Linked DNA regions of Homo sapiens: region 1 is reported to be linked to region 2. Evidence: microRNA targets listed by miRTarBase, many of them from high-throughput screens and not tested one by one. Region 2 holds a microRNA gene; the other region holds the end of a gene's coding sequence.
Evidence for each region. Region 2 holds the annotated microRNA hsa-miR-151a-3p (CUAGACUGAAGCUCCUUGAGG, at 1,015-1,035, opposite strand). A microRNA usually pairs through its seed, bases 2 to 8, with sites in the 3' UTR of a target mRNA and lowers its output. Matches are read on the target gene's strand: a 7mer-m8 pairs with bases 2 to 8, a 7mer-A1 pairs with bases 2 to 7 and ends in A, and an 8mer does both.

Region 1: miRTarBase lists RPUSD4 as a target of hsa-miR-151a-3p. Seed matches in the 3' UTR shown: 7mer-m8 at 1,138-1,144.

The regions. Positions count from the first base shown.
Region 1 is chr11:126,200,600-126,203,726 of GRCh38, reverse strand. It overlaps RPUSD4 (RNA pseudouridine synthase D4), which reads left to right. Exons shown (of 7, transcript NM_032795.3): 7 at 70-1,631. The coding sequence ends at 309. Among named protein-coding and RNA genes, the nearest start is that of RPUSD4, 9.5 kb to the left of the region's middle.
Region 2 is chr8:140,731,573-140,734,572 of GRCh38, forward strand. It overlaps MIR151A (microRNA 151a), which reads right to left and starts at 1,081; the gene lies at 992-1,081. All of the region lies in intron 25 of PTK2 (protein tyrosine kinase 2), which reads right to left.

The DNA.
Region 1 (3,127 bases), not on the chromosome of region 2:
TGACCTTGCATGTTCGTCAAGGGTGGACTGTTGGCCTTGCTCTCAAGGGTCTGTCCTTTCTTTGTATAGAAGCTGTCTGTGGGCACCCTGAAGAAGCTGGGGCTAGAACAGTCGAAGGCCCGCTACATCCCCCTTCACCTGCACGCCCGGCAGCTGATCCTGCCTGCCCTGGGGTCCGGGAAGGAGGAACTCAACTTGGTCTGCAAACTTCCTCGCTTCTTTGTGCATTCCCTGCACCGCCTGCGTTTAGAGATGCCAAATGAGGATCAAAATGAGAACAATGAAGCCAAGTGTCTGGGAGCACAGTGAAGACCATGGGAGCACCCTGGCACCTGGGAGCACAGTGAAGACCCTGAGAGCATCCTGGCACCTGGGAGCGCAGGTTGGCCCCTGAACTGTTCTTTGTTTACAGGACTCTGCTAACTTCTCACTTGGAACAGACTGCGTAAGAGCCAGGTGGGATAAGGTAAAGCAACTCAGCTGCTACAGGGCTTTTAATGGAGAACAAAGTCTATTTACTGATAGTTTGGCTGCACTGTGGAAAAGCCTGCTGGAAGTCTCCCTGCCGTGGGCTCTCATTGCCAATATGGAACAGAGCCCAGGGCCAGGCAGACTGGGGCAGTGACTGGAAAAGGAAAACTAAAGGTCAGAATCCGGGATCAGGAACTGTTTTTATCCAGCAGTGAAGCTCTTGAGCTCTTAGGAAGGTTCCCGTGGTTGGAAAGAACATAATGGTTAACAAATATCACAGCATCCAGGGATTGCCCAGCTATAGTGTGGGTGCCCTACTGAACTCTGATTAGGGAACCTGTATAAGGGTATTGAGTGTGAGGTTGAGGTGGGACATTTGCTGAGCAAGGAGAACCGATGTGAATGGCAGGCAGATAACATGCACACATGAAGCTGGCTGGGTGTAAGGCAGTAGCGGGGAGCGGCATGCTGTCTAACAGCTGTTAGCTCCAGCTGGTTGTTGCCATGTGGGAATGGATTTTCTCATTTCTTCAGAGAAGCTGGAAACCTAGATATTTATGTGAAACCTCCCAGTGTATTGCCAACTAAATCAAATTTTTAAAGATGCTTAGGCACCTAAGCAAATAATACTTAGAGGTTGAATTTGGTCTACAGGCTAGCAGTTTGCAGTCTATGTTTAATGAATGGTATAGAAGTTTGGGGAAAGGTGCCATCTTGAAAATTCTGGATCAGTGGTTGGCATTTTCGCTGCGTGTAGTATGTATCCTTTCTAGGCTTGGAGATGGCTTTGGTTGGTCCGTGAATGTAGTTATGAGAGTGCTGCCATTAAAAAATCAAAAATCTCTGTTGTGGAAGCGTATCTTCTGTTCTTAGGTCTCAGGAAGGAGAGGGCTATACTGAACACCATTAGGGATAGATGGAAATGACCTTGGCCTCCCTGCTCAGCTGGTCCATCTAGTTTCCACCTTGTTTCTTGCAAACAAATACACCTCACACTACTTTTTCTTTCTGACAGAGTTGGAGTGACAGCACAGTTAGGGGGGTACACCCCGGGACAGTCTTTATATGTTCCCTCTGTATAGATGATGCCACTTTCTAGCCCTTTCCCTGTCTCCATGGTACCCATTACTGTGCATAATAAATTTAACTTTGAAAGCACAGACGAGATGACTATATTTGTTTATATAAGACCTAAATATTTTTGCTGTTATTTCTGTTTCTAGTAAACCATGCTAGTCAAGAAAAAGGAACAAGAATGTGACACTTAGGAAATAGTGATAATTGACATTAATTCAGGGAAACAGATGAACAGGAATACCCACAAGAATGGAGAAGAGGCTGGGCGCGGTGGCTCACACCTATAATCCCAGCACTCTGAGAGGCCGAAAAGGCCGAGGCGGGCGGATCACCTCAGCCCAGGAATTCGAGACCAGCCTGGGCAACGTGGTGAAACCCTGTTGCTACAAAAAATACAAAAATTAGCTGGGTGTGTTGGCACACGCACACCTGTGGTCCCAGCTACTCAGGAGGCTGAGCTAGGAGGATCACCTGAGCCCAGGAGGTTGAGACTGTAGTGAGCCATGATTGTGCCACTGCACTCCAGCCTCGTGACAGAGTGAGACCCTGTCTCACAAAAAGGAGAACAATCTTAGAGGAACAGATGATGGAAATAAAAGAACTGGAAAATGTAGAAAAGTAGGAGCTAGTCAGGATACATTTTGGAGAAGTAACAGATGATTTATATTCTCATATATAAATATGGTCTCCTCCAAGATGTAAATCTAGTCTTTAATTTGGCAAACTGAATATTTACTAGGCTGAAGGTATCTGGGGATATTCACTCATCTCAGGGAGCTCTCTTTAGCTGGGAAAATTCAGTTAGCTGTGTGGTTTACTGACAAGTAAGTGTGAGGCGGGACTGTTGTTCCCCAGGCGGGCACGTTGGAGCTAGACTGAGAACCAGCTGTGTCGTTCTGTCTGCCCGGCTTTGTCACAAATGCTGCCCTACTGTTCTTCGTGATTCTTTAGCACTTCAGTGCTGGGTTTTGTGTTGGTTGCTGAACTGGGAGCTACCAAGCTAGTGACAGTTGACTTTTTGAGAATTCCTAAGCTTCCCTGGGATATGGGGTCACCACATTGGAGACTGGGGCAGATGTCTGCCCTGCTGCACCTTCCCAGACCCTTCTCAAGCCGAGGTCAGCGGCTCTGTGCCCCGCAAAAGGACTGTCTTCTTTAGTGTCGACTGACTCATGGGGGTGCTTAAGGACCAGGACAACAACCTCATATAACCTAGTTGATCTGCAGCTTTTAAGGGTGCAGGGAATGTGATTATAGCTAGGCAGAGTAAGCTGAAATGCTCTTGTATGTTGATTCGTTAGCCATAAAAGTATGATTTTTTAAAAATGTGTTTGCGTTTTAAATAACTTTTATTTGTAAATATGGAATGGCCTTTTAAAAATTAATAGAACATTTAAGCACACCATAAGAAATATCAAATATTAGGTCATGTCATCTGCTTGTAATTAGTTACCATCTGGGCTTGAGAGGGACCTGGTTTAAGAAGCGTGGTAGACTGGGCATGGTGGCTCATGCCTGTAATCCCAGCACTTTGGGAGGCCAAGGCGGGAGGATCGCTTGAGCCCAGGAGTTCTGAGAT
Region 2 (3,000 bases):
AATCACTTCTCAACTAATATAGTCAAAAACAAATATACAAGGCTGGGCATGGTGGCTCATGCCTGTAATCTCAGTACTTTGAAAGGCCAAGGTGGGTGGATTGCTTGAGCTCAGGAGTTTGAGACCAGCCTGGGCAACATGGCAAAACCCCATCTCTACCAAAAATACAAAAAATTAGCTGGGTGTGGTGGTGTGGTGTGCATGCCTGTAGTCCCAGCTACTCAGGAGGCTAAGGTGGGAGAATCACTTGAGCATGGGAGGTGGAGGTTGCAGGCAGCAGAGATGGTGCCACCGCACTCTAGCCTGGGCAACAGAGGAGACCCCGCCTCAACAAAATAAAATACACACGCATACACTCCAGTTAAAGATGAGGGGAATCCCACAGTAATTTGAGTCTACTTGCAAATATTCTTTCAAGGTAGGGAAGGAGAATTCTTTCGAGGTCAAGAAGAAGAATGGGATTTGGGAAACATTTTTAACTACCATAATTTTAACGACCAAAGGGCTATCCAAACTTATTATTTCTTTGTTAAAATCTTGGAAATAATAAAAATTTTGAAAAAAATTAATAACCTATTTAGTTATTGTGATACACTGTTATATGCAAATGTCCAAGTAAGCAATTATATTATATAGTGACATTTTATAATATAAAATGGTGGCCTATTTGGTAGCCTAATTGTATATGTTCAAAACGCAAAGTTAAACACCATTTCTAAAACAGAACAATGCAGAATGAATGAATGCTCAACTACCTGTGCTAGTAGTATATAAGAAGATATCCATAAATTATACTACAGGTACCTATTTAAAGTAATTATATGTAGTTCTAAAAATATGTATTGGATACTTTTTGGAGATAATTTACCTCAGTGGAGCATTCCTTAGTATTAAGAATCACTCATATGTTCTAAGCCTTGAATTCAGTGCCTGGGTGACTCTTCCTGTATCTAGCTAGCTAGGCTACTGGCCTGGAGGTTTGGGCAACACCGAGGTGAGTATGACCATCCCTGTCCTCAAGGAGCTTCAGTCTAGTAGGGGATGAGACATACTAGACTGTGAGCTCCTCGAGGGCAGGAAAAGTGTTTTAGTCATCTTTGCCCCAGTGACTAGCACCAGGCTCAGCTACTGTAGGTGCTCAACAGTGTTTATCGAACTGAATTGAACACGGGTTGCAGCCATCTATAGCAGCATAGGGTAAGCCTGACAAGAAGAACAAAGAGCTTTGGAGACTCAGAGGGTGAAGGCTAGTCAGCTGTGAAGTCACAGAAGACCCAGTGCGTGAAAGAAGCCGAGAAAGATGGGTAAGATCTCCCCAAATGAAGAAGGAGGCATTCTGGGCTGACAGGAGGGTTAGTTTAGCTACTGTGTGTGAAAGGGATGAGAAGACAATCTCAGGCCATAATGAAATGAGGCCTAAATGTTACTGTGGAAGCCTTTACCCAAACATAAAAGGTGACAAAACCCCACTGAAAGTTGTTTTGACCAGGGGAGTTATTTTTCCAGTGACATTTCAGGAAGATTGACTAAGCTGGTCATGCCAGACAGATGGGAAAAGAGCGTGGGATGGAGGGTGGGGGGCAGGCACAAGGAGTGAAGCATGACTCCAAGATGGTGCCGAAGATAAAGGCACTATTCCAACCTGGAGGAAGTGAGGAGGAAGGGCTGGCATAGAAGAGAATGTAACAGCTTGCTTTCTGGATAAACATGATGCCCAGCCAGCAATTTAAAATGTAGGTTTGGGACTTGAGAAAAGGGCAGGACCAGAACTATAGACAGACAGAGGTAAGCAGCAAAGCCATGTGAATGGGTCAGACATCCTGGGAAGAGTAATGAGAGAAAATGGGAGAAAATAAGAGGCTGAAAACAGAAATTTGGTTAATATTCATGGTAAAGGTGGAGAGATGGCAAGTCAATGAGGTAGAAAGAGATGCCAGGGAGGTGGGGTGATAGAACTGGTATCAGAGAGGAACAATGCCAAGGACAGAATCTGTCAAATCCTGAGGAAAGATCAAGGAGGAACAAATAGGAGCAAAACAACATGCAATAAAGCATGTCCAAAAGCCAGCTGTAAAGGTGAGAGAATAGGCAGTTAAGTTATATGAGAATTAATTAAGGAACTGAAGATTTTTGGCTTGAAGAAACTAAGAGGAGGTAAGGAAGCTGTTTAGAATTACCCTGAAGGCCTATCGTGTGAAAGGCAGAGTAGGGTTGTTCTATGGGGCCTTGAAAAGTAGAACCAGGCCGGTGTGTGAGAGTTATGGGGACGGAGACCAAGAGCGTGGCTGGTCTTTCCAATGTGGGGCTCACTGTATTGTAATAACCAGTGATACCTCGGTCTCCTCCACCAGACTTTAAACTCTCTGGGGGCAGGGATTGGGTCTTGTTCACTGTTGGACCCACAGAACCTAGCTTAGAATAACAAAGGTGCTTAGCAAACATTTTCAGACTGGATGAATCCTTTGTGCTTCTACCTATAGGTCTTAATTCTTCTTTGAAATACTCTCCTTAAAAGGAATCCTGTCTAGCAGGTTGAACAGCTTGAACATGTGGTGAGAAGGCTGGGCTAGATGGTGAAAGGCCTGGACCCTGCAGTTGATGATTTTTAGGAAAAAGACTAAAATACAGCATGAAAAACAAACCCATAAAAACTCACATAAAATGGAGGAAGTCCCCAAGTGTGAAAACAGGTGACACAGCACACACTGAACCATGGTATTGTTTATATAATAAAGCTTCTCATGCCTATGTGTTATATTACAGTATCTTGTTTATTACAGTATTAAGTCTCATTCTAGACTCCAATTCAATTCAATTCAACAAATGTTTATTGAGCACTTATATGGTGCCAGGTTCTAAGCTTGGCATTGGGGCTACAGAAATCAGTAAGACACAATGATGCCCGTCAAGAGCTCTGAGTGTAGCTGGGGACATGCACAAGCGAACAAGAACCTCTCCAGGCCAGGCAACAGGGTAGAGTATGCACATGCTTCTCTGAGG